Linked DNA regions of Homo sapiens. The protein of the gene in region 4 purifies or fractionates together with the protein of the main gene of each other region. This does not show direct contact. Each region holds a gene or a part of one and is shown on either strand. Other genes may lie near its edges. The genes, in order: GINS2, SLC20A1, ACVR1B, CSNK1G2, C12orf43, ZSWIM8 and HECTD4.

The links.
Region 1: the proteins of CSNK1G2 (region 4) and GINS2 purify together in Homo sapiens (affinity purification with mass spectrometry; 2 studies listed by BioGRID and IntAct, with this or other methods). This does not show direct contact.
Region 2: the proteins of CSNK1G2 (region 4) and SLC20A1 purify together in Homo sapiens (affinity purification with mass spectrometry; one large-scale study listed by BioGRID and IntAct). This does not show direct contact.
Region 3: the proteins of CSNK1G2 (region 4) and ACVR1B purify together in Homo sapiens (affinity purification with mass spectrometry; one large-scale study listed by BioGRID and IntAct). This does not show direct contact.
Region 5: the proteins of CSNK1G2 (region 4) and C12orf43 purify together in Homo sapiens (affinity purification with mass spectrometry; one large-scale study listed by BioGRID and IntAct). This does not show direct contact.
Region 6: the proteins of CSNK1G2 (region 4) and ZSWIM8 purify together in Homo sapiens (affinity purification with mass spectrometry; one large-scale study listed by BioGRID and IntAct). This does not show direct contact.
Region 7: the proteins of CSNK1G2 (region 4) and HECTD4 purify together in Homo sapiens (affinity purification with mass spectrometry, with the first as the bait; one large-scale study listed by BioGRID). This does not show direct contact.

What each region holds. Positions count from the first base shown.
Region 1 is NC_000016.10:85,686,155-85,690,378, reverse strand, and holds the start of GINS2 (DNA replication complex GINS protein PSF2), read left to right. Parts: upstream 1-1,424; 5' UTR 1,425-1,480; coding exon 1,481-1,570; intron 1,571-2,804; coding exon 2,805-2,919; intron 2,920-4,224. UniProt on the Homo sapiens protein: Required for correct functioning of the GINS complex, a complex that plays an essential role in the initiation of DNA replication, and progression of DNA replication forks.
Region 2 is NC_000002.12:112,659,439-112,662,938, forward strand, and holds part of SLC20A1 (sodium-dependent phosphate transporter 1), read left to right. Parts: coding exon 1-324; intron 325-948; coding exon 949-1,134; intron 1,135-1,703; coding exon 1,704-1,788; intron 1,789-3,425; coding exon 3,426-3,500. UniProt on the Homo sapiens protein: Sodium-phosphate symporter which preferentially transports the monovalent form of phosphate with a stoichiometry of two sodium ions per phosphate ion. May play a role in extracellular matrix and cartilage calcification as well as in vascular calcification.
Region 3 is NC_000012.12:51,986,199-51,989,698, reverse strand, and holds part of ACVR1B (activin receptor type-1B isoform a precursor), read right to left. Parts: intron 2,882-3,500; coding exon 2,757-2,881; intron 1-2,756. UniProt on the Homo sapiens protein: Transmembrane serine/threonine kinase activin type-1 receptor forming an activin receptor complex with activin receptor type-2 (ACVR2A or ACVR2B).
Region 4 is NC_000019.10:1,944,172-1,947,671, forward strand, and holds part of CSNK1G2 (casein kinase I), read left to right. Parts: intron 1-3,500. UniProt on the Homo sapiens protein: Serine/threonine-protein kinase. Casein kinases are operationally defined by their preferential utilization of acidic proteins such as caseins as substrates. It can phosphorylate a large number of proteins. Participates in Wnt signaling.
Region 5 is NC_000012.12:120,999,986-121,003,236, reverse strand, and holds the end of C12orf43 (protein CUSTOS), read left to right. Parts: 3' UTR 1-2,044; coding exon of another isoform or gene 2,045-2,172; 3' UTR 2,173-2,751; downstream 2,752-3,251. Other genes in the region: HNF1A (hepatocyte nuclear factor 1-alpha), read right to left, coding at 2,045-2,172. UniProt on the Homo sapiens protein: Plays a role in the regulation of Wnt signaling pathway during early development.
Region 6 is NC_000010.11:73,792,106-73,795,605, forward strand, and holds part of ZSWIM8 (zinc finger SWIM domain-containing protein 8), read left to right. Parts: coding exon 1-747; intron 748-1,482; coding exon 1,483-1,614; intron 1,615-1,759; coding exon 1,760-1,939; intron 1,940-2,041; coding exon 2,042-2,225; intron 2,226-2,435; coding exon 2,436-2,534; intron 2,535-3,433; coding exon 3,434-3,500. UniProt on the Homo sapiens protein: Substrate recognition component of a SCF-like E3 ubiquitin-protein ligase complex that promotes target-directed microRNA degradation (TDMD), a process that mediates degradation of microRNAs (miRNAs).
Region 7 is NC_000012.12:112,372,432-112,375,931, reverse strand, and holds part of HECTD4 (probable E3 ubiquitin-protein ligase HECTD4), read left to right. Parts: intron 1-3,500.

The DNA.
Region 1 (4,224 bases), on a different chromosome or scaffold from region 4:
TGCCTCGGCCTCCCAAAGTGCTGGGATTACAGGCGTGCCTGGCCAAGAGTATGTGTCTTCACACATGAAAGTAACTCAGCGAAAACTCCAGATCTGTAAATAACAACTTCTAAGGCAGATACACAACAGACACAGCTTTGTGAGCAGGCCTGTGAGCTTTACGGCTTTTTTTCACCTTCCCAGTGACCCTCTATGGGGCTTCAGGGAGGTTGGAGAGGAGAGCATCCGGTTAGCTGGGGCGGGGGCAGGGGGTGCTTTCTGCTGGAATTCCAAACCCTGGAATCCTCATGTCTCCTGTGATTTTTCTCGCGGGCCTAATTATCAAGGTTTCAAATTCGACTGCAGTCCTAGAATAGCGCTTCACCCCCAGGAAGCTTTTCCGGCCATGACCACCCCATCAAAATCACCTGGCCCTGGATGAAATTCAGCTTTCTGTCCTTTCCACGACTCCGGAATCCCAACTCCCAGGAGCGTGCACACAGACAATGGGCACCCGCTAGGGGATTCTGACACAGGTGAGCTCCAGCCACCGCTCTGGCTTCACCTGCGCCCACTGTACAGGGGCAGCCGGTCCAGCGAGCAGGTGAGTATTTGCTCAGGTGGTGCAAACCTGCCGCTCCTGTCTCATGTGGGGCTCCTGCCGAAGTGCAAATTCTGAGCTCCTGCTCTGAAGTGTCCGAATTGGAAGCTGTGGGGTGGGATGGAGGAATCTGCATTTTTACAGCTGTTTTAAACAATGTGTGCAGAGAGGGCAGAAGATTGTGAAATTAATGGAAACAAGGTCTTCCCTCATCCCTCTATCTGTCAGCCCGGGTGATGCCTAGTCCCGGGCCCGGTGCTGAGTTTGGGCCAATAAATGCTTGTACTCTTGGCCTGGCACGATGGCTCCCACCTGTAATCCCAGCACTTTGGGAAGTCGAGATGGGAGGATCGCTGGAGACCGGAAGTTCAAGACCAGCCTGAGCAACACAGCAAGATCCCAAATCCACGAAAAGTTGTTTAAAAATTAAAATAAAATAAATGCGTTTACTCTTGGCCCCATGCGGAACGCCGGCGTAGAAGCGGCCCGGAACCCCACCCCCGGCTCTTGATTAGGGCCGTTTGCGGCGGGCGCCGGGGACAGGTGAAGGGACACCAAAGCTGGCGCCCGCGGCAGGAGATCCTGACAGCGCCAGGTGCACGCCCACGGGCGGGGCGGGGCCGGGGTGGGGGCGGGGCCTGTCCGCGGGCCGGGGCGGGGCCGGCGCGCAGCCTCCCTCGGCCTTGCCAATCCGCGGGCTCTTCGCGAGCGCGGTCTCCGCCCCCCCGCCCGCAGACAGCGCCTATAGGCTGTCTACCGCCTTCCTATAGGCTGGCGCAGGCCGTCTTCCGGCCGGGGCGGGCTCTCGCCGTGGCGGGAAAACGGCGGCCGCGGCGTCTCCTCCGGGACGCTGAGGGGCCCGAGGAGACCGTGAGGCTCTGGCCTGCAGCTCGCGCCGCCATGGACGCTGCCGAGGTCGAATTCCTCGCCGAGAAGGAGCTGGTTACCATTATCCCCAACTTCAGTCTGGACAAGATCTACCTCATCGGGGTGAGGCCTGGGCCCGCCGTGGGGAGGGGAGGCCGGGCTGGGCGCGTCCGGGGCTCCCGCGTGGCCTTCAGCCCCGGGGTCGCGGGCTCGCCCTGCTCCCGCATCTGCGGAGGCCACCACTCGGCGCTTGACTCGCTCACCGCCGTTCCCGCTTCTCGGATGAGGAAAGCGAGACTGCGCTCTTTGCCAGTGCCCCGAACGCCCGGGTTTACAGGGTTTTTTTGATCTGTTTGGGGGCTTTTTTGGTTTGTTTTTTGGTTTTTGAGGTGGAGTGTCACTCTGTCGCCCAGGCTGGAGTGCAGTGGTGCCGTCTCGGCTCACTGCAGCCTCCGCCTCCCGGGTTCAAGCGATTCTCCTGCCTCAGCCTCCTGAGTAGCTGCTGTTACAGGTGCCCGCCACCACGCCCGGCGCATTTTTGTATTTTTGGTAGAGATGTGGTTTCACCGTGTTGGCCAGGCTGGTCTCGAACTCCTGACCTCATGAGCCACTCGCCTCGGCCTCCCAAAGTGCTGGGATGACAGGCGGGAGCCACTGCGCCCGGCTTATTTATTTGGTAGAGATGCGGCTGGCCTCGAACTCCTGGGCTCCCCAGGCGATCCTCCCACGTCGGCCTCCCAAAGGGCTGGGATTATGGGCAAAAGTCGGCTTTGCCTCTGTTTGTTTTTGTCTTTATCTTTGAGATGGAGTTTCGCTCTATCGCCCGGGCGGGAATGCAGTGGCGCGATCTCGGCTCACTGCGGCCTCCGCCTCCCGGGTTCAGGTGATTCTCCTGCCTCAGCCTCCCGAGTAGCTGGATTGTGAGCCCCCGCGCCCGCCCGGCTTTGCGTTTTCAGTATGAGGGAGGCGCCTCGGCGCTGGGAGTCCTGGAGAAGGAGGGCAGGCTCTGTACCTGCCCAGACCCACCTCCCCGCACCCCAGGACCCCAACATTGGGTGTGTGAAACCTGTTCCGGAGTTGGAGGGTGCAGGCGGGAGAGGGAGCGCCCCCCACCCACTCAGGGGAGACTTGCATCCTGTCCGCGGAAAGGCCAGAAGGACTGAGCCCCACGCTCGCAGGTGTCTCGGAGCCGCTCAGGAGGCGCTTTGTTCTGAGTCTGGTAACAGTTGGGTTTTTATTATTTGCATTTGGACTTCAGCCTCTGCAATGCCTTGCCTCTTATTTGATAGCAGTAACGCACAGTAATGCTTTTTTTGTTCTTTTTCAATCTTACGGGGAATTGTTTTACTTTTGGCAGGGGGACCTGGGGCCTTTTAACCCTGGTTTACCCGTGGAAGTGCCCCTGTGGCTGGCGATTAACCTGAAACAAAGACAGAAATGTCGCCTGCTCCCTCCAGAGTGGATGGATGTAGGTAAGGATGTGGTGGAGACTGGTTGATGCGTGGGTGGGGCTGGGCTTGGGGTGACGCCCTCTCCCACGGGGTGGAGGCATGGGGCCTCCTTCCTGACTAGGTCCGTGCTCCCTCTGTTCCGTTATCTACTGATCAGCTGAAAGGAATACTTCCAGATTCACCTCTCAGCAGAGTCTGCTAACCACTGTTAGTAATGTCATGTTAGGTTTTGGTGTGTGTGAAAGTTGTAGTTTGTTTTTTGAGACGGGTCTGACTCCATCACCCAGGCTGGAGAGCAGTGGTGCAATCTCGGCTCAATGCAGCCTTCACCTCCTGGGTTCAAGTGATCCTCCTGCCTCAGCCTCCCAAGTAGCTGGGACCACTGGCGTGCGCCACCACACCCTGCAAATTTTTGCGTTTTTGTAGAGATGGGGTCTTGCCATGCTGCCCAGGCTGGTCTCAAACTCCTGGGGTCAAGCGATCTGGCCACCTTGGCAGATCTGCTGGGATTATAGGCGTGAGCCACTGTGCCCAGCCTATATTTTAATGTAAGATATTTCAATTTGCTTTAAAATAAATATATGACCTTAAATAAGCATTTGTTTTAAAATTTTAAAAATAAGTATAGATTAGCATGTTGAGAAGCAGTTATAGAGAATGCATGAAAATAATATATCACAATAAGGTTGAATATTATTCAGCTATAAAAAGGAATGGAATTCTGATACATGCTACTGCGTGGATGAACCTGAAACATCTTAAAGATCTTGCTGAATGAAAGAAACCAGGCACAAAAGGCCGCACACTGTATCATTCCATTTCTATCAACTGTCTAGAATAGGCAAATCAATAGAGACAATGTAGATTAGTAGTTGCTTAAGTATGGGGGTCTTGCTTTGGGTGATGGAGGGATTGTGGAGTTTCTTTTTGGCATGATGAAAATTGGGATTGATGGAGGTAATGGTTGCCCAAGTCTGAATATACTAAACACCATTGACTTGTACACTTTGTTTTTAATAGCCCACAAGTGCTACTAAAACTTGTATACTTTTTTTTTTTTTTTGAGACAGAGTCTCGCTCTGTCGCCCAGGCTGGAGTGCAGTGGTGCGATCTCGGCTCACTGCAAGCTCCACCTCCTGGGTTCACACCATTCTCCCGCGTCAGCCTCCCAAGTAGCTGGGACTACAGGCGCCCGCTACCACGCTCGGCTAATTTTGTTTTTGTATTTTTAGTAGAGACTGGGTTTCACCGTGTTAGCCAGGTTGGTCTCAATCTCCTGACCTCGTGATCCACCCACCTCAAAACTTGTATACTTTAAATGGCTGA
Region 2 (3,500 bases), on a different chromosome or scaffold from region 4:
GCCTCTGGATTCATTCCGTGCCAAAGAAGGTGAACAGAAGGGCGAAGAAATGGAGAAGCTGACATGGCCTAATGCAGACTCCAAGAAGCGAATTCGAATGGACAGTTACACCAGTTACTGCAATGCTGTGTCTGACCTTCACTCAGCATCTGAGATAGACATGAGTGTCAAGGCAGAGATGGGTCTAGGTGACAGAAAAGGAAGTAATGGCTCTCTAGAAGAATGGTATGACCAGGATAAGCCTGAAGTCTCTCTCCTCTTCCAGTTCCTGCAGATCCTTACAGCCTGCTTTGGGTCATTCGCCCATGGTGGCAATGACGTAAGGTCAGTTGACATTGATCTTAGTGTTGCTAACCCTATTTTTAAACCATTTATCCTTGTCACAGGCCTGTGCTTGTGGTAGTGGTACTCCTAGCATTTACAGGACCCCAAATAATACAAATAGGATGAGGTAATAGCAGTTATTGACATAATAAGACAGTACAGTTTTATTCTTCAGAGGAATTACAAAGAATGTTTATTTTTGTAGATGATAAATATAAACAGATACTCTTCACAGAGAAGGCTTTTGTCCATCAAGATGAGATTCAGTTCTTTGGTAGTGAATTGTGGGATGTAAGATGTAAGATGAAAAACTTAAAAGTTTTTCATATAGAATGATTTTGTAGTTTGGTTTGTAAACTGTTTATTGGAACCTGAGAGTTGCTTTAAGCTGCCTATAGGAGGAAAGAGGCCACCATTTGCCTGGCATTCCCTCCATCAGAGCTGTGTTCATTTTTCTGTTGTGTATGTTGGGGTTCCATTTATGTCTTTAGAAAGAAAGGCCCTTTTGCCAGATGAGCTTGAAAGCTGTACTTTAGACAACCTGGTAGATCATTCAGCAGATTGGGTCTTGCCAAGATCTAGTTCTGCCTGAAAAGTCACTTCTGCCCTCTTTGTTTCTTCCAGCAATGCCATTGGGCCTCTGGTTGCTTTATATTTGGTTTATGACACAGGAGATGTTTCTTCAAAAGTGGCAACACCAATATGGCTTCTACTCTATGGTGGTGTTGGTATCTGTGTTGGTCTGTGGGTTTGGGGAAGAAGAGTTATCCAGACCATGGGGAAGGATCTGACACCGATCACACCCTCTAGGTAAGTAGGTGGAGCAGGTTCTACAAATGTCAGTACTCATTTTTTTCAGAGATATAACACTGTCGAGTGCTAACACAAATCTCTAAAGTAACCAAGTTTGTATAAGTTCATGATGTTCTTATTGTCATTGTTCTTTTTAGATTTTACTTGTCTGGCCCTTAAACATTTTGGTCAGACATTTTACCCATTTAGCTCTGGTGGTCTCTGAAGAAAATGACTTTTCTGAGAAAGCTGTGTATGCTAAGAGCGGATAGTTATGTATACTTGCCTTTTATTTGTCTTGGGAGCTAAGACTCAATGTTTACCAAACTCTTCAAAATAAAAGTGCAAATTTTATTTAATAGTGGGATTCCAGAAAAACGTAAAACTGGAAGCCTTTGAATAAGGAAACTGGGCATCTGTGGCCTGATTTAAATAAAGTAGATCTTAGGGGTTATAGCAAATAAAGATGTCAGTGGAGGTTTTGTGACTGAGTAGAACAAAGCAGGACTGTGTTAACTTGAGGTGTAGTGTTAGCTTCTCAAAAAAGTCAAACTCACTTCCTGACAAGAATCCTTTTGTGTCTGTAGTGGCTTCAGTATTGAACTGGCATCTGCCCTCACTGTGGTGATTGCATCAAATATTGGCCTTCCCATCAGTACAACACATTGTAAAGTAAGTGTAATGCCAATGTGTGTCTTTCAAATGGTTCTTCTAATATGTAGGGTTTTTAGTTTTACTTCTCTGATACTTTGATTTAGAAAGTTTTGTGCAGTTGGAGTCTTGAAGAGTTCATAAGTTATTTCTTGTGTTTATTCTTATTTAAGCAATTAAATAGATATTCTCCCCAAATAATAGAAACATTGTTTTATATACAGCTTACTGTAGTTTCTGGCTACTAACCTCTTCCTTTGTTACTTTATCCTCCCTCATTGTAGTCTCTTTATAATAATTTTTTTTTTAATCTCAAGAGTCATTTCTACTTGGCACCATTATGTTTTATTTATTTATGTATGAGTTGGAGTCTTGCTGTGTCACCTGGGCTGGAGTTCAGTGGCACAATCTCGGCTCATTGCAACCTCCGCCTCCTGGGCTCAAGTGATTCTTGTGCTTCAGCCTCTCAAGTAGCTGGGATTATAGGCACCCGCCACCATGCCTGGCTAATTTTTGTATTTTTAGTAGACACAGGATTTCACCATGTTGGCCAAGCTGGTCATGAACTCCTAACCTCAGGTGATCCACCTGGCTCGGCCTCCCAAAGTGCTAGGATTACATGCGTGAGCCACCGCGCCCGGCCGACAGCATTATGTTCTTTGCCTTTGGGGAAGCCATTCAGAGCAGGGTAGGTGTATGCTTAGAAACTGGCAGGTGCTTTAATTCTGGCCAGGTGGGTTTCTGCTGCCATTTGTGGTGGCTGAAGGCCTGGTTCTAACAAGTCTGTGAGGCTTGCCAAAATGTTGGCAAAGCAGTTTATTTACAGAAGGCATATTTCAGGGCCTCTCAGGATTGAAATACTGAGAAACAAAACAAATCTTAAGGTTGTTTGATGACAATCTAATAATTATAGGAGAAGGAAGAAACTGGTTTCCTTAAGAGCATTTAAGCTGGTCCATCATGGATCCTGCTGAGTCATCTGTTTGCTACCCGGATGTGTCTCCAGACAATTGTTTATTAGGTTTAATATCAGCCACTCTGTAAATAATCTTAGGAAGACTTACAATGCAATTTGTTATTAAAAGCAGTGTATAGGCCAGGTGCAGTGGCTCATGCCTGTAATCCCAGCACTTTGGGAGGCCAAGGCAGGTGGATCACAAGGTCAGGAGTTTGAGACCAGCCTGGCCAACATAGTGAAACCCCATCTCTACTAAAAATACAAAAAATTAGCTAGGCGTGGTGGTGGGTGCCTGTAATCCCAGCACTTGGGAGGCTGAGGCAGGAGAATCACATGAAACCAGGAGGTGGAGGTTGCAGTGAGCCAAGATTGCGCCACTGTACTCCAGCCTGGGCGACAGTGCGAGACTCCGTCTCAAAAAATAAATAAATAAAAGCAGTATATATTCATTAAATTTTAGCAGTAGCTGAGAAGGGGAAAAGAAATAGTTCTTGTGTCCTTTTACTACCGTTAGTATAGATTATGATTGGATTTTCAAATTGCCTTCATTTTCCCAGCTTAACCTGTTGTAAACCAGCTTTCTTGGACTTTGTCTTGTCCAGGGGTCTGGGGCTCCTTGTCCAAACAGTCTCAGGTGTCTGTTTGCCAGAATACCACTGGCACTTCAATAACCTGTTTCCTTGGTCTGCTTCTCTTCTAGGTGGGCTCTGTTGTGTCTGTTGGCTGGCTCCGGTCCAAGAAGGCTGTTGACTGGCGTCTCTTTCGTAACATTTTT
Region 3 (3,500 bases), on a different chromosome or scaffold from region 4:
TTCATTTTTTAAAGTGTGGTAATAGCACTGCATTTTTTTAAGTCCTCATCTTTAAGAACTACAAACTTAGAAAGATTTTCCATAATAAAAAGATAGTTTTAAAAAGCCAATTTAGGCCAGGCACAGTGGCTCACGCTTATAATCCTAGCACTTTGGGAGGCTAAGGCAGGTGGACCACCTGAGGTCAGGAGTTCGAGACCAGCCTGGCCAACACAATGAAGCCCCATCACTACTAAAAACAGAAAAATCAGCCCGCAGTGGTGGTGGGCACCTGTAATCCCAGCTACTCGGGAGGCTGAGGCAGGAGACTGGCTTGAACCCAGGAGGCGGAGGTTGCAGTGAGCTAAGATTGTGCCATGGCAATACAGCCTGGGTGACAAAGAGAAACCCTCTCTCAAAAAAATAAAAATAAAAAGCCAATTAATTTTTCTCAAGCCCTTTTCCAGAAAAAGAAAAACAAAACAAAACAAAAAAACCCTGCTGTCTTGAGCTAATGAGACAATTTTTTTTCTTTTAAGTAGAGATGGAGTCTCTCCTACCTCAACCTCCTGAGTAGCTGAGATTACAGGCGCCCGCCACTACACCCGGCTAATTTTTGTATTTTTAATAGAGATAGGGCTTCACATTGGCCAGGCTGGTCTCGAACTCCCAGGTGATCCGCCCACCTTGGCCTCCCAAAGTGCTGGGATTACAGGCGTGAGCCACCATGCCTGGCCTTTATGTCTGGCTAATTTTTTTATTTTTGTAAAGATAGAGTTTCACCATGTAGCCCAAGCTGGTCTCAAACTCCTGGCCTCAGGTAATCAGCCCACCCTGGCCTCTCAAAGTGCTGGGATTACAGGTGTGACACAGTGCCCAGCCTGGGAAATATTTTTAAATAGAGAATTGGACTTGGTAATTATCTAAGGGGTAGTTACAGGCTTAAGCCCTGGCCTCAGCCTGTCCGAGTCTGAACCCTTGTTTACTAAAATAGTTATGTGACCTTAGACAAATTTCCTAACTTCTCTGTGACTCATTTTCTTCATTTGTAAAATGGCGATGATAATAGCACCTACTTATTATTTACTTGTAGTAGTAAAGATTAAATGAGCTTATACATAGCAAGTGGTGAATAAATGTTAGCATTATTATATATTTAGCCTCAATTTCTGGATGTCATAAGAAGAAATAAACTTATTCACAGTTTAAGACCTGTGTGACCAGATTTTTCTTAGTTTGTTTGTTTTTTCTTTGAGATGGAGTCTCGCTCTGTCGCAAGGCTGCAATGCAGTGGCTCGATCTTGGCTCACTGCAAACTCCGCCTCCAGGGTTCAAGCGTTCTCCTGCCTCAGCCTCCCAAGTAGCTGGGACTACAGGCGTGCACCACCATGCCCTGCTAATTTTTGTATTTTTAGTAGAGACAGGGTTTCACCATGTTGGCCAGGATGGTCTCGATCTCTTGACCTCGTGATCCGCCTGCCTTGGCCTCCCAAAGTGCTGGGGATTACAAGCGTGAGCCACTGCGCCTGGCCTCTTAGTCTGTTTTACTGCATATACTGATCAAAATTTAAGAGGTACAATTCCATGAATACTACCTGGGCACTATTTCCATAATTTGGATTTTACCAAACATGTCATAAATGGAAGCTGGAAAAGGGTATTAATATACAAAACAGTTCTGCTGGAAGACTTGTCATATTTTTTGTAGATTAGATTTTTTTAATTTTTAATTTTTGTGGGAACACAGTAGATGTATATACTTATGGGGTACATGAGATGTTTTGATACAGGCATGCAATGCATAATAATCACATCAGGGAAAATGGGATATCCATCCCTTCAAGCATTTACACTGTGTTACAAACAATCTAATTATATTCTTTCAGTTATTTTAAAATGTACAATTATATTATTGACTATAGTCACCCTGTGGTGCTATCAAATACTAGGTCTTTAAAAAATATGGAACGCTTCAGGAATTTGCATGTCATCCTTGTGCAGGGGCCATGCTAACCTTCTCTGTATTGTTCCAATTTTAGTATATGTGCTGGCGAAGTGAGCACCACCAGTTCTTTTTTTCAATCACTTTCACTGCCCTGGAATCTCTTATATCACAGATAAATGGCTGAGAGTAGGGCTCTAGAGGTCCTGGAACTTGATCATGTGGCAGAATATATGGAAATTATCATAAAATACTGATATACTAAGTTGACAATAAAAAGTGTTTCTGCTAAATCTGATACTATTTCTTACTGGATTCTGTCATGAATAAGCAGCTGCAAATGCCAACGATTTTTAACTATGGGAGAAAAAACTCACTTTTAAGAAAAATCTATGCACTTTTATAAATTTAGAAATTAGCACTATTATTTTAACAATGAAACAGCAGGGTTTCCCATGAATGTGGCTTGGGAGCCACCGCGTTAGAATATACTGCTTCTGATGTGAAGGAGACCACTGCATGAATCCCGTGCTATGCGCACCGGGGCACTCCCCGCCACGGACTAATAAAACAATGTTTGTTTGTTTATAAAGCCAAACGAGCCTTCAGAATGGTTACCATAACACACAACGCTATTCAACAAACTGATCCCTGAAGAATAAACGCACCCTAAGCACAGCTACCTCCACACCTTTGATGGCAACCTTAAACGATGATTCAGGCTCTGGCAACAGGCATCCAACAGGTTGTAAAAAGAAAGGGGGCAGTAAAACAGCTTTGGGTGATCCAGCATCCTGGAATGGGAGGTAGGAGCAAAGGCAAAAAAGAAAGGTACCTCCAGAATTGCATCTTCGAGCAATCTCCCAATATACAAGCCCGAGGGCATAAATATCAGCACATTTAAAGGAGTCAAAGTGTTTCATATTAATGGTTTCATCAAGTACTTCAGGGGCCATGTATCTGCAATAGCAAAACAAACATGGTCACGCACAGAAAATGATGACTGCTCTCTTTAAATCAAAGTATTGATTCAGGAGCCCTCTGAATGTGGAAGAGTATCACCCTGATAAAGTCCCTTGGGGCAGAAGAAGTGTACACATCTCTTCATTGCAAACTCCCATGTTTTAAATTTGATTCTAAATACTTCAGCACAGATTTGGCAATACCAGGCTACTCTGATGTGTATCTCTATTTTTAACCATCAAGATTTGTTTATTTGGCCAGGTGCGGTGGCTCACGCCTGTAATCCCAGCACTTTGGGAGGCCAAGGTGGGCGGATCACCTGAGGGCAGGAGTTGGAGACCAGCCTGGCCAACATCGCGAAACCCCATCTCTATTACAAATACAAAAAATTAGCCAGGCATGGTGGCAGGCGCCTGTAATCCCAGCTACTCGGGAGGCTGAGGCAGGAGAATCACTTGAACCCGGGAGGCGGAGGCTGCAGTGAGCCATGACTGTGCCATTGCACTCCAGCTTGGGCAACAAGAGCGAAACTCCATATCAAAAAAACAAAGAGAGAGTAAAGATTTGTTTATTTGAAGCATGTTTTGACTTCTTGGCAGAAGTACTTGTAATGTGG
Region 4 (3,500 bases):
TGGTGTCAGGCGTGCCGGGTCCGCCTCCCCCATCCCGCGGATCTGCAGATCTGCAAATGCTCCGCCGGCAGCCACACGAGAGAACCTGTTGGTTGGCGGCCTCTGTGCAAGGCCGTCTGAGTGAGGCCTGCAGTCTGGAGGCTCCCTAGGTCGGGAGGCTCCGCGTCTGCTTCTTCCTCATTCTGGAGTTCTCGTGGGGCCCGTGCTGTGGGGCTTCCTGGGAAGTGGGTGGAGCGCCCATTTTACAGATGAGGAAGTCGAGGCCTACCTGGCCTGCTTGGGTAGAGGAGAAGGTGGTGTTTCCCGAGGGCTGACTCCCACACCTGTGCTTCTCTGGTCACCCGCCGTGCCAGTGGGAGCAGTGACAGCGAGGGGTGGTGGCCCTGCGGCCAGGGGACGGGCCTCACCGCCTTCCCCATCCTCTCTGCTGGCTCTGTCCAGAGGGCTGTGCCGCCCTGTGACTGGCACGTGGGTGCAGCCGTCTGCTGGGTGGGTCTGTCCGGGAGCTTGACTGGCCTGGCTGGGTGGGGGGGGGTACCCCTTTGTGCTACCTCAGCGAGGGCTCAAAGTGAGGGTCTGGGACCACCAGAACGGTGTATTCAATGCACTGCGGGCAGCCCTGCAGCGGGCAGGGATTGAGTGAGGGGTGGGGCCTGCCTGGCTCCTGGCAAGCACCCGTCTGGCGGGCGGGGCCCAGTGAGCCTCCTCCCTTTGCCGGGTCCTCCTGTAGTGGGGCAGGAACCTCTAGCATCCCACCCTTGCTGCCCTTTTTCTGCCCCGCTCACCACCCACATCAACTTGTCACCAGCAAGGGCATGGGACAAAGCAGGACATGCCCCGGGTGGCCAGCGTGAGCTAGCTGTGCCCAGGAGCATTGCCCATGCTGTCCCCCAGGCACTGTCCTGAAGCCCTGCTGGGTTCTGAGTCCTCCAGGCTCCGCGGCCCCTTCTCGCCCTGCCCAGAGTCTCTGGCCACCACCGCTGCTTGGGGCCCTGCACCAGCCTGTGCGCCCGCAAGGTTGCCAGGGCCCCTCTGCAGGTGCAGCGTGAGCTGTGTCCTGGGCCCACAGGGGAGCCGCTTCTCAGACCCCCGGGCTGGCCCCAGGCTCCCCCGGCAGCACTCAGGCGGCCCTGGCCCCCGGTGCGGCTGACTGTTCGGGGCACGCGTCTGAGGTGTGGGGATCATCTCCCCCTTGCTCAGAGCCCCCAACGTGTCCCCTGCACAGGGAATCGGGGCAGCCCCCTGCCAGCCCTGCCCAGGGATCCCTCCTGTCACCCTCAGGCGTGCTCCTGGGTGGCCCAGCGGCCTCCCTGCACCGTGAGGCCCGAGACAGTTTCGCGTGACATCATGTTGAAAACAGCCAGCTCTGGCCGGGCGCGGGGGCTCCCACCTGTCATCCCAGCACTTTGGGAGGCCGAGGTGGGCGGATCACCTGAGGTCAGGAGTTCAAGACTAGTCTGGCCAACATGGCAAAACCCCATCTCCACTAAAAATACAAAAATTAGCCGGGCGTGGTGGCGTGCGCCCATAATCCCAGCTACTCGAGAGGCTGAGGCAGGAGAATCACTTGAACCCGGGAGGTGGAGGTTTTAGTGAGCCAGGATCGCGCCACTGCACTCCAGCCTGGGCAACAGAGCGAGACTCCGTCTCAAAAAAAAAAAAAAAAAAAGCTGGTTCTCCCTTGATGCGCATCTGCTGAACTTCTGGGGCACGCTGGGGTAGAGCAGTGGGTCCCTCCCTGGAGAGGCCATGGGGTGAGGACCGAAGCTGTGGGTGCCAAGTGGGGCAGGCAGCCCAGTGGAGTGGGGCAAGAGACTCTGGTCTGGCCGGCCTGACCCGTGGGGTATGACTCTTGTTACGGCAGATTCCATCTAGGAGCGGAGGCCACGCGTATGTTCCCGGGAGAGGTGGGAAGTGCATCCCGTGGCCTATCCCGGGGAGGTCACTCCCATTCCATACCTGCAGGGGGAGCTAGCTGCCTCACGTCTGTGTCTCAGGCCGCGCAGAGGAGGGGGCGCAGGTGAGGGCAGCGGGAAGAAAGACTGCAAGAGGCTCGGGGGTCACGGGCCAGGGCTGGCCCATCACTATTTATTCGTTTATTTATTTATTTATTTATTTTTTATTTATTTATTTTTTTTAAGATGGAGTCTTGCACTGTTGCCCAGGCTGGAGTGCAGTGGCCCGATCTCAGCTCACTGCAAGCTCCGCCTCTTGGGTTCACGCCATTCTCCTGCCTCAGCTTCCCGAGTAGCTGGGACTACAGGCGACCGCCACCACGCCTGGCTAGTTTTTTGTACTTTTAGTAGAGACGGGGTTTCACCGTGTTAGCCAGGATGGTCTCGATCTCCTGACCTCGTGATCTGCCCGCCTCGGCCTCCCAAAGTGCTGGGATTACAGGCGTGAGCCACCGCGCCCGGCTATTTATTTATTTATTTATTATTATTATTATTATTTTCTTTGAGATGGAGTCTCGCTCTGTTGCCCAGGCTAGAGTGCAGTGGCGCAATCTTGGCTCACTGCAAGCTCCGCCTCCCGGGTTCACGCCATTCTCCTGCCTCAGCCTCTCCAGCAGCTGGGACTACAGGTACATGCCATCACGCCTGGCTAATTTTTGTATTTTTAGTACAGACGGGGTTTCACTGTGTTAGCCAGGATGGTCTCCATCTCCTGACCTTGTGATCTGCCCGCCTCGGCCTCTCAAAGTGCTGGGATTACAGGCATGAGCCACTGTGCCCGGCCTATTCATTTATTTATTTAGAGACAGAGTCTCGCTCTGTTGTCCATGTTGGCCAAGCTGGTCTTGAACTCCTGACCTCAGGTGATCCACCTGCTTCAGCCTCCCTCATAGCTGGGATTACAGGCGTGAGCCACCGTGCCCGGCCCTATCGCTATTTAAAAGGCAGAGAAAATCTTAGAGGTTTTTTTATTGTCACCAGCGGTGTTTCGTTGATGCGTAATTGCCTTTGGAGGCTTGAAAAAAGTTGTGCTTAAAGGTAATCCCTCAATTATCTGGAAACTTCCACCCTCCAGAGTGAGGCACCCCAAGTCCTGGTCTGGATTCGTGGACAGAGTCCCTGCCTGTGAGGCCTGATGGCCAGTCCTCTCGCCTTGGCCGTGGTGCTTCAGGCCCTGTTGCAGGTGGGACCCGCCCTCCTTAGGGACCTTGTTTCCCAGGTGATGCTCATGTAATCTGCGGTGACCTCTGCCCCTTCCCATCTGACCTCTGTCCCCAGGAAAGATGGCAGGCGTGCGAGGGCTCATCCTGTCCGCGGCAGTTGTGCCCCTCGGGCTTCTGCTCCAGTGGTCCTGGGGCAGGGCAGCTGGCGCTGATGCCCAGGCTCTGCCTGGGGACAGTTCCCAGGACGGGAGCCTGAGGGCAGCGCACGGGACCAGCGTGAGGACACGGACTGGCCCGTGTCTGCCTCTGACTTGCTGGGTGTGCCTTTGAGTTCCTCTGAGGGTGGGTGCGCCGAGGGGGATCCAGCTGGGCCCTGGCCACG
Region 5 (3,251 bases), on a different chromosome or scaffold from region 4:
TGGCCAACATGGCGAGACCCCATCTCTACTAAAAATACAAAAATTAGCTGAGCATGTTGACACACGCCCGTAATCCCAGCTACTCAGGAGGCTGAGGTGGGAGAATCGCTTGAACCCAGGAGGTGCAGGTTGCAGTGAGCCGAGATTGCGCCACTGCACTCTAGCCTAAGCAATGGAGCAAGACCCTATCTCAAAAAAAAAAAAAGAAAAAGAAAAAGAAAAGAAGTAGAAGCTCATGGCCAGGGATGGTGGCTCACACCTGTAATCCCAGCACTTTGGGAGGCCGAGGCAGGTGGATCACTTGAGCCGAGTTCCAGACCAGCCTAGGCAACATGGTGAAACCTCGTCTCTATAAAAAAAAGAATACAAAAATTAGTTGGGCATGGTAGTGAGCGCCTGTGAGGCTGCTTGTGAGGCTGAGGTGGGAGGATCCCTTTAGTCCAGGAGTTCAAGGCTGCAGTGAGCTGTATAATGCCACTGCAGTCCAGCCTGGGTGACAGTGAGACCCTGTCTCCAAAACAAAATTTTTTTAAAAAGTAGAAGCTTGAGGTTAAGATGAAATCTGGCTTTGTCATTAGAGTCTCAGCAGAGCAAGAAAAGCAGAGATGTGGGGTGTGAGAGCGTGGGTGCTGGAGCCTGTCTCCTCTTCGCAGGCCTCTGGCCTGCCCCAGCCTCCCGCTACCTGCCCAAACCCCATCTGAATGATTTGTGGACAAGCAAGAAGTTTCCACCGCATTTCTCCTTGACTTTACTAAAAGTTAAATAAACGTGCCACTCGCCCCGGCTGGCTACAAGCTGCAGGGGGTGCCGGGTCACCCCAGGCCTTTTCCTGAATCCCAGGGTAGACGCGGTACACTGAAGGCCAGGTTCTCAGCAGCAGGCCCAGGGATGTGGGACCATGCTTGTCCTGGGTTCACAGGCTCCTTTGTCCCTCCTGGCAGTGCTCAGGACCTCAGACTCCTCAGGGTGGCTGCGAACTGCCCTCAGCCAGCCAGGCCCCCAGGCTTCTGAGTGTTAGTCCTGTCCACACAGGTAGCTCCTGTGCCCTGGGGTCACCTCTTTCTTCTCCTGGGCACCTCAGCTTGGCCAGTTCCCCGGCCCTGCTCAGCTGCTCGGGCCTTGCTGCCTTGTGAGCTCAGCTACTCCTGCCCCAAACAAGGGCAGGGTCTGCAGGGCGCTCGAGACAGAGGAGCTGCCCCACCAGGACCTGGACTTGGCACGGGTTGCGAGGCTCCCACAGGAGTAAGGACGACTTCCCAGCCCCGAAGTAGCCTTCCCAGTAGAGGCAGGAGGCCAGGCTGGCCTCAGAGGCATGATGCTCTTGGGAACAAATACAGGAAAGCTGGAGGTCATGGGGCCTGGGAGAGGGAATCGCTGGGGATGGGAAGCCAGGAGAGCCCTGCCTGCCTTCCCTGTTAGCTTCGGCCTCCCTGGGCTCAGGCGTTAGAGCCCCAGGCTCTGGCACAGAGTAGCCACCCAGGAAATGCCTGTGTGAGTAGGTGATGGGGTCAGTACAAATGGCATGTGGGTCACTAGCTGGAAGGAGTTGGGGCAGGAAGGAGTGGCCCGGTGGGTACATTGGTGACAGAACAAGGCCACGCTGATCCAGGGCCTCTCAGAGCTCAGCAGGTCACAGCTACACAGGCCTGTGTCCTGAGAAGTGTGGCTGCCAGAGTGGTGTAGCGGTCCCAGGGCTCTCCATAGGCCCAGGCTGGGGGTGCCCAAGTCATAGGCCGCCCCCTTCAGTTCCAAGTAAGAAGACTGTATCCCACGAAGCAGCGACAGTCCCTCCTACATCTGCCATGAACAGGCTTTGCTCCTAGCTCTCCACGACCCCCTCCTGTGCACCCCGAGCAGCCTCCACGGGTTGGGGCGCCTCAGAGCCCTCCCTTTCTGATGCATCAGAGCAGAGTGGGGAGCGAGGCACAGCTGTCCAGGAAGGGCCACGGTTGCTCGGCAGGCTCAGGTCCTCCAGGCAGGGCTGGCTGCTGCCCTCATCACCCCCCAAGCAGGCAGTACAGGCCCCAGGGCCCAGGTGCCGTGGTTACTGGGAGGAAGAGGCCATCTGGGTGGAGATGAAGGTCTCGATGACGCTGTGGTTGGATGGCAGCAGGTGGCTCTGGCCATTGCTGGAGTCTGAGCTCTGGTACAGCACCAGGCTGCTGGAGGACACTGCAGAGGCAAACAAGGCTGCTAGCCACCCACCAGGCACCCACACCCACCCCACCTGCCTGTCCCTAGGGGTACTCAGGATGGGGAGGCAGGGCCACACCTCCTGGATCACAGCAGATAACAGGAACCCCAAAGTCACACCTCTACCCTCGGTTCTTCAAAGGGAGCCTCCCAGCCAGGGTCCACGGCCGCCCATGGAGTGGCCTGAGTACATCTTAGTGTGAACACTGGAGAAGCCCCGGTGAGATGCCGAGGTAGGTAGTTGTACGTGTTGGCTTGGCTAGGCTGAGTCAAACACTAATCTAGGCGCTGCTGTGAATGCAGGTGCTTTGTAGATGTGGTTAATGCCACAATCAGTTGGCTTTGAGTGAAGGAGATTACCCTGAAAATATGGGTGGGCCTCCTACATCAGTGGAAGGCCGTAAGAGCAAAAACCGGTTTCCCAGAGAAGGAATTCTGCCTCAAGGCTGCAGAATTCACTCCCCAGAGCTGCCAGCAACAGATTTCAGGCCTGCCAGCCCCCCGCAGACACGGGCCAAGTCCTTCAAATAAATCTGTTGGTTCTGTGTTCCTGGAGAACCCTGACTGATGGCAATGGTTAAGAGAATGGGCTTTGAGGTGGGACCTGGGTTCGAGTCCTGGCCCTGCCATCTGGTAGCTGTGGGAGATGAGGCAAGTCCCTCCCCTCCTTGAGTGTCCACTTTCTCATCTGTAAAATGGGGGTGGTCATGGACACGCCTCATGGGGTGAATGCCAGGACACAGAATGGCCTCAGTGGCTGTCATGACAGCTGCCAGGGCCGGGTCCAGGAACCTTATAGAAAGGGGGCAGCTTGCAAAAAGGCAGGCTGCAAAGCCCACCCACCTGACTCCAAAGTGCCCACTCCTGACAATGGCATCATAGATTACAAACTCAGGTGACCGCCCCACCGCCAGGGGTCATTGGAGCCGATGTGAGTGGATGCAGTGAGGCCTGGTGCACTGTTATATGGGAATATGAATTTTTCCAATTTTCCAAAAGATGCCAGAAATCTGGATTTCTATGTGAAAATTCCTGATTTTGAAATGTTGGCAACAAAT
Region 6 (3,500 bases), on a different chromosome or scaffold from region 4:
GGCCTGGAGGAATCCCGGGACCGGCCCCGACCCCTTCCTACTGAGCCAGCTGTGCGGCCCAAGGAGCCTGGGACCAAGCGAAAGGGCTTGGGTGAGGGGGTCCCCTCATCACAGCGGGGTCCCCGCCGCCTCTCAGCTGAAGGGGGAGATAAAGCTCTACATAAGATGGGTCCAGGTGGGGGCAAAGCCAAGGCACTGGGTGGGGCTGGCAGTGGGAGCAAGGGCTCAGCAGGTGGCGGAAGCAAGCGACGGCTGAGCAGCGAAGACAGCTCCCTGGAGCCAGACCTGGCCGAGATGAGCCTGGATGACAGCAGCCTGGCCCTGGGCGCAGAGGCCAGCACCTTCGGGGGATTCCCTGAGAGCCCTCCACCCTGTCCTCTCCACGGTGGCTCCCGAGGCCCTTCCACTTTCCTTCCTGAGCCCCCAGATACTTATGAAGAAGATGGTGGTGTGTACTTCTCGGAAGGGCCTGAGCCTCCCACAGCCTCTGTTGGCCCCCCTGGCCTACTGCCTGGGGATGTCTGTACCCAGGACGACCTCCCTTCTACAGATGAGAGTGGCAATGGGCTTCCCAAAACCAAAGAGGCAGCCCCTGCAGTTGGAGAGGAGGATGATGACTACCAGGCGTACTATCTGAATGCCCAGGATGGGGCTGGGGGCGAGGAAGAGAAGGCCGAGGGCGGGGCTGGGGAGGAGCACGACCTGTTTGCTGGGCTGAAGCCACTGGAACAGGAGAGTCGCATGGAGGTGAGGGGATGGAAGGAGGGAGGGCTGGGTGCTCCTTAGCCACAACTGGGAGGGGCTATCTAGCTCTAGTTGGGAGTGTCAGGACCATCAGCAGGATTGTGAGAACCCTGTTGCAGGCGCCGAACTGGTCTCCCTGCTTTCAGTCTACTCACTTTTCTGCTTCCACGAGATTTTCCTGAAATGTGATGGTGTCACTCTGCTGCTTAAAACCCTTCAATGGGTTCCTGTTGCCCTTATGATAAAATGAAAGTGGTTGGCATGACCTGTGAGGGTCCACTTGATCTGGTCTTTGCCTGCTTTGCCAGCCTCACTTGGCTGCTCTGTCCTTTGCACTCCAGTCAGCTGAATCACTCATGTATCTGCCATGCTCTCTCTCTTGCCTCCAGGATTTTGGACAGATTGACCTTTCTGCCTGGAATGCTCTTCCCCATTAGCCCGTGTTTCTCCTTCAGGTCTCAGGGATCTTAAAGATCACTTCCTCTAGGGAGTCTCTCTGATACTGTCCCTGTGCCCCAAGATATCCCACCTGCTTCCCCTTGACCTTTCCCTGTAATAGCTGGCATCACGGTGGCATGTGTGTTTATGTGTCTGTCTTTCTAACCAGAGCTCCTATGGAGCGGCACAGGGCCTGGCATGTAGCAAGTGTTCAAGGAATGTTGGCTGCATGAGTGAGCATGATGTCCTGCTCCTGGAAGTTGGGACTTTAACCTGTCTGGTCCCATGTCCTCCTTCCAGGTACTGTTTGCCTGTGCTGAGGCCCTGCATGCGCATGGCTATAGCAGTGAGGCCTCCCGTCTCACTGTGGAGCTTGCCCAGGATCTGCTAGCCAACCCACCCGACCTCAAGGTAGAGCCGCCCCCTGCCAAGGTGAGAGACCCCCTTCCTCTACCTTCCCCTCCCCCACTTACCCCCAACCTGCTCCCATGCCCCACCCCAAGTGAGAGCATCCTTCTACCTCCACCAAGGTAAGTCAGAATCATCTGCCTGTCTCCTGTGTTTCTTCCCTTTCTAGGGCAAGAAGAACAAGGTATCCACGAGCCGTCAGACCTGGGTGGCTACCAACACCCTGAGCAAGGCGGCCTTCCTGTTGACAGTGCTAAGTGAGCGTCCAGAGCACCACAACCTGGCCTTCCGAGTTGGCATGTTTGCCTTGGAGCTACAGAGGCCTCCAGCTTCTACCAAGGCCTTGGAGGTCAGAGGCTCCATCTCAGCCTTGTATTTCAGTCTCTTTAGAGCCTTGCACCTTGATCTCTATTGACACACCAGAGGTCTGAGCTCCTTCCTGTGCCCTCAGGTGAAGCTGGCATACCAGGAGTCTGAGGTGGCTGCCCTGCTCAAGAAGATCCCTCTGGGTCCAAGTGAGATGAGTACCATGCGGTGCCGGGCAGAGGAACTTCGGGAGGGGACACTCTGTGACTATCGGCCTGTGTTGCCTCTCATGCTGGCCAGTTTCATCTTTGACGTTCTCTGTGCTCCAGGTATGATGCCTGACCCTACAGTAAGTGGGGAACTGGGGTAGGGGTAGCTTTCTCTAAGAAAGACCAAGAGCCCCAAGTTTCTGAATCACCTTTAGGACCCATCAGGCAGCTTCATGGGTAGGTCTGTGATGATGAGGATTTTGGGTTCCCCTGTATTTTTTCCCATGCATGATACTTCTGTCTGCCTGACTTACCCCAACTTTTATACAGTGGTTTCTCCCACAGGTTCCCGGCCCCCAAGTCGCAACTGGAACAGCGAGACACCTGGGGATGAGGAGCTTGGATTTGAAGCAGCAGTTGCTGCCTTGGGTGAGTCTTGAGCATATCAACGAGCTAAGCCTGGTTCAGGTCTTGAAGGACATGAGACCTGTGCCTTGTTGTGAAGGGCTGTATGGTAATGGGAAGGTCAGGATGACATGTGTGAGCCAACTAGTGCCTGTAAGACAGGAATTCAGGGCAAAAATGTGTGCTATATGGCTGGGCGTGGTGGCCCATGCTTGTAATCGCAGCGCTTTGGGAGGCTGAAGCAGGAGGATTGTTTGAGCTCAGGAGTTCATGACCAGCCTGGGCAACCTAGCAAGACCTCATCTCTACTTAAAAAAAAAAAAAAAAAAAAAAAAAAAATTAGCCAGGTGTGGTGGCACATGCCTTGTGCTGCCAGCTACTCCAGAGGCTGAAGTGGGAGAATTGCTTTAGCCTGGAGATTGAGGCTGCAGTGAACTGTGATTGCACCACTGCCCTCTAGCCTGGGCAACAGAGTGAAACCTTGTCTCAAACAAAGAAAAAAAAAATTGTGTGCTATGGGTATTGGGTATTGTAAGGGCAGCAAAACAAAAATCTAGAGAAAGGCCTAAGGGAAGTGGTAGAATATGGAATGTGGGTTAAAAGATCAGTAGGTCCTAAACCAGCGAACACCATGAGTAAATACACAACGCAATCAAGTTTTCATGAGAATGAGGAGGCCAGCTTCCCTAAAATGATAAGTACATGCTGGGTAAGCAGATTGGACCTGGTTATGAAGGTTTTGAAAAGCACACCAGAGCTTAGGCTGGATATAATAGTCAACGAAGACTTCTATAGGTGATGTGGGTTGGACCAAGGGAACCCCTTACTTCATATGCTGATGGCTTGGGAACCCTGGCCTCTTACCTTTGCTGTCTTGGGAATTATGACTACTCTCAATCCCCATAAGGTCCTCTTTCTCGCAGGCATGAAGACAACAGTGAGCGAGGCAGAACATCCCCTCTTATGTGAAGGCACACGTCGGGAGAAGGG
Region 7 (3,500 bases), on a different chromosome or scaffold from region 4:
ATTTTTTTTTTTTTTTTGTATTTTTAGTAGAGATGCGGTTTCGCCATATTGGCCAGGGTGGACTTGAACTGCTGACCTCAAGTGATCCAGCCGCCTCTACCTCTCAAAGTTTTGGGATTACAGACGTGAGCCACCACGACCGGCTTAGGAAATTTTTTTAAAATGTTGAAATAAATATACATTTAAGAGAAATAAAAAAGCAATAACTCAAAAATAACATCTCAAATGTTATTGCATTTTGCATTGCATTTCATAGAACATTATTCTTTTTAAGATAAAGGGAATTTAAGAGGGGGAAAAGAAGGAATAGCTTACTTGTGAGAATTCCAAAAGCATTCTGCTTCCTATTCCATTTTTCTTTACAAACTGCGGTTGGGAACAAGCAGGCATCGTATATAAGAGTATTGACAGAGAAGCTGATTGACTTACCCAAGGTGGCTAAGATATTTCTTACTCCACAGTTGAAGTTCATTTTAAATTTAAGCATTTTGGTTAGTGCTTCTCATATTTCATTGTGTTTGCTTTTAAGTACTCCCTCTCCACCCCGCCCCACACCACACAAAGACTTGAACGTGAATGTTCAAGTCAGCTTTATTTGTGATTGCCCAAAGCTGGAAACAATCCAAATGTCCGTCAGCAGGTGAATGGATAAACAAATGTGGTACATCCATACAATGGAGTATTACTCAGCAACAAAAACGAATGAACCGTTGGTACTCACAACATGGATTTATGCAGAGTGGAAGAAACCAGACAAACAGGAGTATATACTGTAAGACTCCATTTCTATGAAATTCTAGAAATGCAGACTAATCTGTAGTGGTTACCTGGGGATAGAGGCAGGCAGGCAGGAAAGGATGAGAGGGACGGAGTATAAAGGAGCATGAAGAAACTTTTGGGGCGATGGCTCTTTCCCTATTTTGATTGTGGTGATGGTTTCACATTTGTATATGTATGTCAAAACTCATTAAATCACACACTTTAAATATGTGCAGTTTACTGTACGCCAATTATATGTTAATTAACAAATGGAACCTAATAGATGCAAAGGGTTTTTGTTTATTATTTTGTTTTGCCAGATAAGAAAAGGGGCATTTGGGTTTGAAGTTGATCAGCTGAAATCATCAAGGCTTTAAATACTTATCATACACTCAAGTGAAATCTTTGAGATGATATTTAGATTTATGTTGGTCTATTCTCCTAGGAGGACACTGCTAGCCTATATATCCTTTGGGCAAAATCCTTTGGAAAGTGTTTATGTACTTTTATAGAATTCTAGATTTGGATGAGTTAATGAATAAGCGAATAAACTACCCTTGTTCACCAGTAGTGTTGATTACCATGCAATTAATGAGCACTGTAATAGGAGTCACTGAATCTTGGTGCAGTATTCTGTGAGCTTGGGCAAAAGGCCCAACAGGCTTTCAGGCTTGTCTGGCTCGAGCTGTAAAATGAGAATGAAGTATTTGAGGGCTGTGGGAGACAGTATTGCCTTGAAGTTAAAGTCAGGTTTAAAGAGTCAAACTGGGATTGAAATTCTAGCTCTGCTCCTTGCTTGCTGTATGACCTTGGGCAAATTCCATACCTTTTTTTAAACATATTTTTCTAGAGACAGGTTCTCACTCTGTCACTGGCTGGAGAGCAGTGGTGTGATCATAGTTCACTGCAGCCTCACACTCCTGTGCTTTAAGTGGTCTTCCCACCTTAGCCTCCTGAGTAGCTGGGACTACCGGTGTGCTACTAATTTTTTAATGTTTTATAGAGATGGAGTCATGCTGTGTTGCTCAGGCTGGTTGTGAACTCCTGGCCTCAAGCAATCCTCCTGTCTCAGTCTCCCAAAGTGCTGGGAATACAGGTGTGAGCCACTGCACCTGGCCAAATTCCATACCTTCAGAAATCACTAGTTACTTTTTTTTTTTTTTTTTTTTGAGACAGAGTCTCGTTCTGTCACCTAGGCTGGAGCGCAATAGCACGATCGCAGCTCACTGCAACCTTCGCCTCCCGGGTTCAAGTGGTTCTCCTGCCTCAGCCTCCCGAGTAGTTGGGATTACAGGCATGCATCACCATGCCTGGCTAATTTTATATTTTTAGCAGACACAGGGTTTCACAATGTTGGCCAGGCTGGTCTGGAACTCCTGACCTCTGGTGATCTGCCCACCTCAGCCTCCCAAAGTGCTGGGATTATATGTGTGAGCCACTGCGCTCAGCCCCTAGTTATCTTCTGGTGCATCTTCTTAGTCATCATTGTCACTATCTCTACCACTCCCACGACAACAGCGCCAGCATATTGAGTGGTATGTTCTGTGCTAAGTACTTCACATCCATTATTTTATTTGATCCTCACAAAAAACATGAGGTTGGTACTGGATTATCTTTACTTTTATTATTTTTGTTTTGTTTTGTTTGTTTTGAAATGGAGTCTTACTTTGTCGCCCAGGCTGGAGTGCAGTGGCGTGATCTCGGCTCACTGCAACCTCCGCCTCCTGGGTTCAAGTGATTCTTCTGCCTCAGCCTCCCGAGTAACTCCCGTGCCACCACACCTGGCTATTTTTTGTATTTTTAGTAGAGACGGGGTTTCACCATGTTGGCCAGGCTAACTCCTGACCTCAAGTGATCCACCCTCCTTGGCCTCCCAAGTGTTGGAATTTCAGGCGTCAGCCACCGTGCCTGGCCAAGGATTATCTTTATTTTATAAATGAGGAAACTGGCACAGACAAAAGTTAAGTAACTTGACAAAGGTAAGATAGTTAGTGGCAAAGCTAAGACTGAAATAGGTCTGTCTGATTCCAGCCCTGAGTCCATATTCTTGAACTATTATGTTATACTATCATCATCTAAAAGAGTGGGATAATGATAGGGCTAATGTCAGAATTAAAAAGATGGAGGTGGCCAGATATGGTGTCTCATGCCTGTAATCTCAGCACTATGGGAGGGCAAGGAGTGGACTGGAGTTCAAGACCAGCCTGGACAACATGGCAAAACTCTCTCCCTACAAACAAATACAATAAAATTAGCTGGGCGTGGTGGCATGCACTTGTAGTCCCAGCTACTCAGGAGGCTGAGGCTGAAAAATTACTTGAGCCTAGGAGGCAAAGGTTGTAGTAGGCGAAGACTGTCACTGTACTCCAGCCTGGGTGACAGAGCCAGACCCTGTCTCAAAAAAACCAAACAAAAATAACAATAATAATAATAAGATGGATGTGGGCTGAGTGTGGTGGCTCATGCCTGTAATTCCAGCACTTGAGAGGCCAAAGCAGGAGAATTGCTTGAGGCCAGGAGTTCAAGACCAGCCTGGGCAACATAGCAAGATCCCATCTCTACAAAACATTTTAAAATTAGCTAGACATGGGCCAGGTGCAGTGGCTCATGCCTGTAATCCCAGCACTTTGGGAGGCAGAGGTGGGCGGATCACACGAGGTCAGGTGGGCGGATCACGAGGTCAGGAGATCGAGACCATCTTCGCTAACACGGTGAAACCCCGTCTCTACTAAAAAAATACA